Linked DNA regions of Homo sapiens. The protein of the gene in region 1 purifies or fractionates together with the protein of each later gene. This does not show direct contact. Each region holds a gene or a part of one and is shown on either strand. Other genes may lie near its edges.

Region 1 (3,652 bases):
GTTTACATATTCACATCTCCAATACACTTTGATTTTTTTTTTTTTTTTTTGAGACAGAGTTTCACTTTGTCACCCAGGCTGGAGTTCAGTGGTGCTATCTCAGCTCACTGCACCTTCTGCCTCCCAGGTTCAAGCGATTCTCCTGCCTCTGCCTCCCAAGTAACTGGGATTACAGGTGCATGCAACCACGCCCAGCTAATTTTTAGAAACGGGGGTTTGTTTGTAGAGACAGGGTTTCGCTATCTTGGCCAGGCTGGTCTCGAACTCCTGACCTCAAGCAATTCGCCCACCTCAGCCTCATTTTGCAAGCATGAGCCACCGTGCCCAGCCCACTTTGAAGTTTAAGACATATTTTTTCCTTGAAAAATTCCATGAAGGAAAGGATTTATTTACTCCCTGTATCAAGTACTTTGCCTGGCACATAACAGGTGCTTAATAAATATATTTATGAATAAAATAAATGATATGGTTTGATGATATCCACGTTATCTATTTATAGTATGTAAGATAAAATGTGGAACACATTTTAGCTGTTCCTTTTATATTCCCCTAGTAAAACTTCTCTTATCTGAAAATGAAATGTTCATAATCTCAATCCATATGCTACTGTTTGCGATTTTGCTTCTAAGGGCTATGAAATTTTGTTCACGCCTGCATATAAAAATAAGTAGTGGAGGAGAATGGGAACATACAAAGGGTTAAATAATTTTTATTTACATGAAAATCTCCACTCCAGGTGTGGTTTACCCATTAAGTTTGTAGGTGAGCTACAGATAGTGTCAGCTATGTAGGACCTGACGCCTTCAGAGGAGTTTTTTTAGGAAGAGGAAAAAAAAAGGAATCTGATACCCACCTGCAGGGCTTCTGTTATCATTCATATCATTTCACTGTAATAAAAGCCACTTCAGCCTCCTAAAACTGGATGCTGACCCAGAAAGAGAGTGCTGCCAGCTGCGATAGGGCCTCAGAGTTGGCAGCTGCACGCAGGAGTCACAGGCCATACAGTGAGCAAATTTAGTTTGAAAGCACAGGTGCCTGTGTTTTTTGAGAATTGTTGGAATTCCGATTACAGAGCATGGTTGGGGGAGGGAAGTTGAATCAGTGTAATCCCTGCATCTGTCAAAATTATCAATTGTCCTATGGGTCACTTGAGCAATTGGATAAAATGAAGACCAGGGTGCTATACAAATAAGCAAAACCAGGAGGACCACTTTGAGATGCACCCACTTAGAAAGACTGTGTTTTCTTCTCTTTCAAGCACATTTTCTGTTCTGCCAGCTGTACTCCCTTGCATAACTATGTTTCGGGATCAACCGTTGCCATGGTTTCAGTTCAGACCAAAGACGTAAGAATAAACAATTCTGAAACGATCAAATACCACTGACTCTTGATTACATTAAGCCATGGTATAAGTTGGCCCCAAACCATTTGGGTTGTGTAAGGTGCTTTTGAATCCACGCCTGATACAGGCATCTTTAACAGTACAGAAATGTATGCTACACAATAATCAAATGCTTTGTAAAGGTCTGATTTAAGAGAATATGCTAAACAACCCAGTTTCCTCCAGCCCCCTAAGAATGGCGGTCTGGGGGTTGTACCTGCTTTGAGCTCTGCACTAGGCGGTTTCTATAGTTGTTTCATGTCATCCTCATAACCTTGGGAAGTAGCTGTCATTAATCCCATTTCACAGATTAAGCATCAAGAGCTTAAGTAATTTTCCTAGAGCCACAGATGGCAAGCCAGGAATTGAACCAAAGTTGGCCTAACTCCAGACAAAGCTCAGGCTCTTTCCGCTATGAAGTTCTGTCTCTCCAACCTCAGGGAATCCCTAGAATGGATTGAGGTTTCCAGAAAGCAGTAATTTTCCTTACACTCACTCATTCATTCATTCATTCAACAGCTAGTGAAACCAGCTACATGCCCAGCCCTGTAAAAGAAACTGGGGTGGAAAGACAGAAAAGTCATTCCTGCCCAAGAGAAGCTCTCAGGTTTAGGGAAGAGATATGAAAACAAATAACCACAAAGCAGTTTGAGAAGTACCAGTAATAGAGGGGAGGAACACAGAGGAGGGGACCGCTGGCTTTGCCTGGGGCTAGGAGGCAAGGAGCAGCTGGGGAGGAGGTGAACGATTCCACAGGAGAGGTGACATTTAAACCAAATGGTGGAGGATGAATGGGAGACAGAAAGACAAGTGTTCCAAAGAGAGAAAATGGCCTGGGCCAAAGAGCAACGGAGCGAGAAAGACACGGTGTGGAAGCAGCAGTGGTGGGCAGGGCGTGAGGACAGGTAAAGCCACAATGATGGGGGTGGGCCAGATCAAAATGGCTCTGCAATGAGGAGTTTGAACTTTATTCTGTCGTAACTGATGGATTTTCAATAAGGATGGGATGTGACCAAATGTAAAAAACACAACATTGACATTCAACAAATCCTCTGAGTTTTATCTAGGGAATTGTCTGAATTTAAATAAAATCTTACCATACTATTTGCACAATATTGACATGTAAGCCACGTCCACCTCTTCTCACACAAGGTGTCTTTTCTAGGTTAATTTTCTGCAAAAGAGAGCTTCCATCCTTCAGGAAGAACTGACTACATATCAAGGCAGAAGGTACAGCCCATAAGCAGGTGTCTTGTCTCCTGATTAGTTTGTGTTGTGTCACCTGTGAGCCTCCTTGTCTGGCCTTTGTCTTTATTAAAATGCTTGGATATAATACAAGTTTTGAAAAAGACTTGTTTTTAGTAAGTAGCATGTCTTTAAGAAGTCACCCCCCTTCTCATCCCAGTGCTTAGTCTGTACTATCAAAACAAGATGAGAGAATCTGCCGGGCACAGTGGCTCACTCCTGTAATCCCAGCACTTTGGGAGGCCAAGGCAGGAGGATCACCTGAGGTCAGGAGTTCAAGACCAGCCTGGCCAACTTGGTAAAACGTTGTCTCTACTAAAAATACAAAAATTAGCTAGGTATGGTGGCACACGCCTATAATCCCAGCTACTCAGGAGGCTGAGGCAGGAGAATTGCTTGAACCTGGGAGGTGGAGGTTGCAGTGAGCTGAGATCACACCACTGCATTCCAGCCTGGGCAGCAGAGTAAGACTCTGTCTCCAAAAAAAAAAACAAAAGAAAAAGAAAAAAGAAAGATGAAAGATGGAAGGATCTGCAGGGGCATGGCAGGTCCAGGCCTTACCTGGACAAGAGGACAAGATGTTGTCTTGAGGCCCAGTGATGGAGTGAAGGAGACACGATCTTCCTTTAAGATAGTGAGATGATGCAGTACTTGCTAGGATAGCTCACATCTTCAAAGTCCTTTCCCCCAAGGGTTTGGCATTGTTCTCCAGACCAGAATAGACCAACAGCTCAGTGATCCAGCACTCACAGTGACTTGAGTACCCTCAGTGCTCTTTTTGGGGATGCATGAGACCTTTTGTAGTCAAAGGTTCCCAGTGCCATCACTAACATAGATTGTGTTTACCTGCTGTAATTCCATCAAACGCCCTTCCTGTTTGTGCAGTGAAAGACTGAACTACTTATTTGGCTTTGAATTAAAAGGAAAGATCTTGTGAATCACACATTTTTCGAAAGATTCTGTTTGCTCGGTGTAGGTAAGATTTGATCCCTTATAGATAAGCATAAATTATGACATTTTGATATC
Region 2 (3,652 bases), on another chromosome or scaffold:
CTTTTAATGGCTTAAAAAATTTATATCTTTAATGTATATGGAATTTATTTTGGTGTACTATGTGAAGACGAGTATACGTTATGTTTCTCAAAGAGCAACAAGTATTTAAACTTCATTTATTGAGTGATTTTTCATTTCCTCACTGTATTAGTCTGTTCTCATGTTGCTAATACAGACATACCCGAGACTAGGTAATTTAAAAAGGAAAGTTTTTTTTTTTTTTTTTTTTTGAGACGGAGTCTCGCTCTTGTCACCCAGGCTGGAGTGCAGTGGCGCGATCTCGGCTCACTGCAATGTCTGCCGCCTGGGTTCAAGCTTCTTATGCCTCAGCCTCCTGAGTGGCTGGGATTACAGGCACCTGCCACCATGCTTGGTTAATTTTTGTACTTTTAGTGAGATTGGGTTTTGCCGTGTTGGTCAGGCTGGTCTCGAACTCTTGATGTCAGGTGATCCACCCGCCTTGGTCTCCCAAATTGCTGGAATTACAGATGTAAGCCACTGCACCCTGCCAGGAAAGAGGTTTAATGGACTCTCAGTTCCACATGGCTGGGGAGACCTCACAATCATGGCAGAAGGCGAATGAGGAGCAAAATTATGTCTTACATGGCGACAGGCAAGAGAACTTGTGCAGGGGAACTCCAATTTATAAAACTATCAGATCCCATGAGACGCACTCACTACCACCAGAACAGTAGAGGGGAAACTGCGCCCATGATTCAGTTAAGTACACCTGGCCCCACCCTTGATACATGAAGATGATTGCAATTCAAGGTGAGATTTGAGTGGGGACACAGCCAAACCATATCACTCACTGTTTGGAAACGTTACTTTTAACATATATTAAATTCCCATATATAATTTAGACCCTGTTCTTGGGCTAGTACTATACAGTTTTCGTTATTATAGTTTTACAAGGCTACAATACTTTGTAAGAAACCTTGCAGGTCAGATGTGGTTTTGTTGTCAGGAATTTTTTCCAGTAATACTTAGTGGACATTATGTAGTATCCAGTAATCACACACATTGTTTTCTTAATGAAATATATGAAGTCACACTATGTGGGATACATATAAACAGTAAGTAAGCTCAGATCAGGTCAAGGTTTGCTGCTAGATGAGTTAAAAGGAAAATCTTATTTTCAGAGGTTTTTGGATTTTTGCAGTACAAATGAAGAATTATGGATTTGTAATTTATGTTGCTGTTGAGGGCTGTCTTCCTTCCTTGTTCATCTATTTTAAATTGTTTGGTTACTCTTGTATCTTTACTCTCCATTTGAATTTTAGAGTCAGCTTGTTGAGTTACTTGAAAAATCCTTCAACACCTGTGAAAGGAAGGGATCTATAGCTGGTTAGCAAAATCCTGTAGAGATTTTTCACTGGGATTGTGCTAAGTAGTTGGGGAAGAACTAAATCTTAGCAGTGTTTGTCTTCTCATCCATGAACACAGATAACTTTGTTTAGGTGTTCTTTCATGTCTTTCAGTAAAATGTTATAGTTTTTTTCCCCCAAAATTCTTGCACATTTCTGTTGATTTACATCAAAGTACTTTTATGGTTTTGTTGCTGTTGTGAATGGGATTTAAAATTTCCTTTAAATTAAAAACTGCATTTTCTAGTTGTTACTACTGATGTATACATTGATACTTATATATTGATATTGAGTTTGACCAGTTTGTTGAGTTCTGTTATTCTAATAACTTGTCAGTTGATTATCTTGGGTTTTCAGTTAGCAAGTCAGATATTCAGACATTGAGTTTAATCTTTTCCTTGTCAATCTTTATACTTCTTGTTTTTTTTTCTTTTTCTTTTTTGTAGACAGGGTCTTGCTATGTATCCCAGGTTGGTCTTGAACTCCTGGCCTCAAGCGATCTTCCTACCTTGGCCTCCCAGAGCGCTGGGATTATAGGCATGAGCCATTGCACTTGGCACTTTTTTTGTTTGTTTTCCAGTTGCATGGTATGTTTTCAGCGTTCAGTTTTGAGACATCTAAAATATCTCTAAAATATTGTTTACTATGAGTACATTATGCTGTAATCACATTCTGAATGCGTGAGTACATACATGGTAGAAGGGCTAGATCTTCTTTAAGTGGGGGTAATGGAAAGTCTCTGAGAAGGGAAATATTTATTATTGGAGGATTTAATGTGTGATCTTTTCATTACAGATATGGTGTAAGATACTTCTTCAAGATTGGACAGCTGGGGACCTTCTTCTGATTAACCTTAAACCAACTTGTAGCCATAGAGACACCTCACAAGGTTCCCATTTTTGTTGTTGTTGTTGTTGATTTTCTGCTCACACCTTTCCTGACCTTGCAACCATGTATGGAAGTGCCCGCTCTGTTGGGAAGGTGGAGCCGAGCAGCCAGAGCCCTGGGCGTTCACCCAGGCTTCCACGTTCCCCTCGCTTGGGTCACCGTCGAACCAACAGTACGGGAGGGAGTTCGGGAAGCAGTGTTGGAGGTGGCAGTGGGAAAACCCTTTCAATGGAAAATATACAATCTTTAAATGCTGCCTATGCCACCTCTGGCCCTATGTATCTAAGTGACCATGAAAATGTGGGTTCAGAAACACCTAAAAGCACCATGACACTTGGCCGTTCTGGGGGACGTCTGCCTTACGGTGTTCGGATGACTGCTATGGGTAGTAGCCCCAATATAGCTAGCAGTGGGGTTGCTAGTGACACCATAGCATTTGGAGAGCATCACCTCCCTCCTGTGAGTATGGCATCCACTGTACCTCACTCCCTTCGTCAGGCGAGAGATAACACAATCATGGATCTGCAGACACAGCTGAAGGAAGTATTAAGAGAAAATGATCTCTTGCGGAAGGATGTGGAAGTAAAGGAGAGCAAATTGAGTTCTTCAATGAATAGCATCAAGACCTTCTGGAGCCCAGAGCTGAAGAAGGAACGAGCCCTGAGAAAAGATGAAGCTTCCAAAATCACCATTTGGAAGGAACAGTACAGAGTTGTACAGGAGGAAAACCAGGTAAGTTCTACGTGTGTTTACCTTTATTGGCTGAATTCATGTATATAAATGAAATAGCCTTTTTTTCCCCTTTCCTAGATTTTTCCCTTCGTAGTATATGTATCTTCCTTTTTCCTATTGATTTTACTGTTTTGTGTCCTCCATTTCTCAGCCCTTTCCAAATTTGGTCCTGTACCCTGTTTTCTTCTAGCTGCCCATGTCTCCTTGCTCCCATTCTTGCTTGGTTCTTTTCTCTGGTTTCTCTTTCTCTTCGTGTCTTTCCTTTCAGCATATGTTATCTTTTTTTTTTTTTTCCAATTCTTCTGAGAGTATAATTTTGCCACACTCTCTAATATCTATTACCAAATGTATTTTAGAGTAGGTAACTTAAATGTAAGGTATACCATTAAGATTTGTCATAATGTCAAAAAGTCATTCTTAAAAACAAAACAAAATGACTATCACAGGATAAGTCAGTGTTGTCAGCTGAGAACAGAAATTACTTTTAAAAAGTTAATGTTGGCCGGGTGCAATGGCTCACACCTGTAATCCCAGCACTTGGGAGGCCGAGGTGGGCGGATCATTGAGGTCAGGAGTTCGAGACCAGCCTGGCGACGTGGTGAAACCCTGACTCTACTAAAAATACAAAAATTAGCCAGGTGTGATGGCGTGTGCCTGTAATCCCA

The links. Proteins that work in one complex are often made in the same cells at the same time.
Region 2: the proteins of CEP112 (region 1) and ERC1 purify together in Homo sapiens (affinity purification with mass spectrometry; one large-scale study listed by BioGRID and IntAct). This does not show direct contact.

What each region holds. Positions count from the first base shown.
Region 1 is NC_000017.11:65,636,083-65,639,734, reverse strand, and holds part of CEP112 (centrosomal protein of 112 kDa), read left to right. Parts: intron 1-2,546; coding exon 2,547-2,611; intron 2,612-3,652.
Region 2 is NC_000012.12:1,025,586-1,029,237, forward strand, and holds part of ERC1 (ELKS/Rab6-interacting/CAST family member 1), read left to right. Parts: intron 1-2,162; 5' UTR 2,163-2,318; coding exon 2,319-2,987; intron 2,988-3,652. UniProt on the Homo sapiens protein: Regulatory subunit of the IKK complex. Probably recruits IkappaBalpha/NFKBIA to the complex. May be involved in the organization of the cytomatrix at the nerve terminals active zone (CAZ) which regulates neurotransmitter release.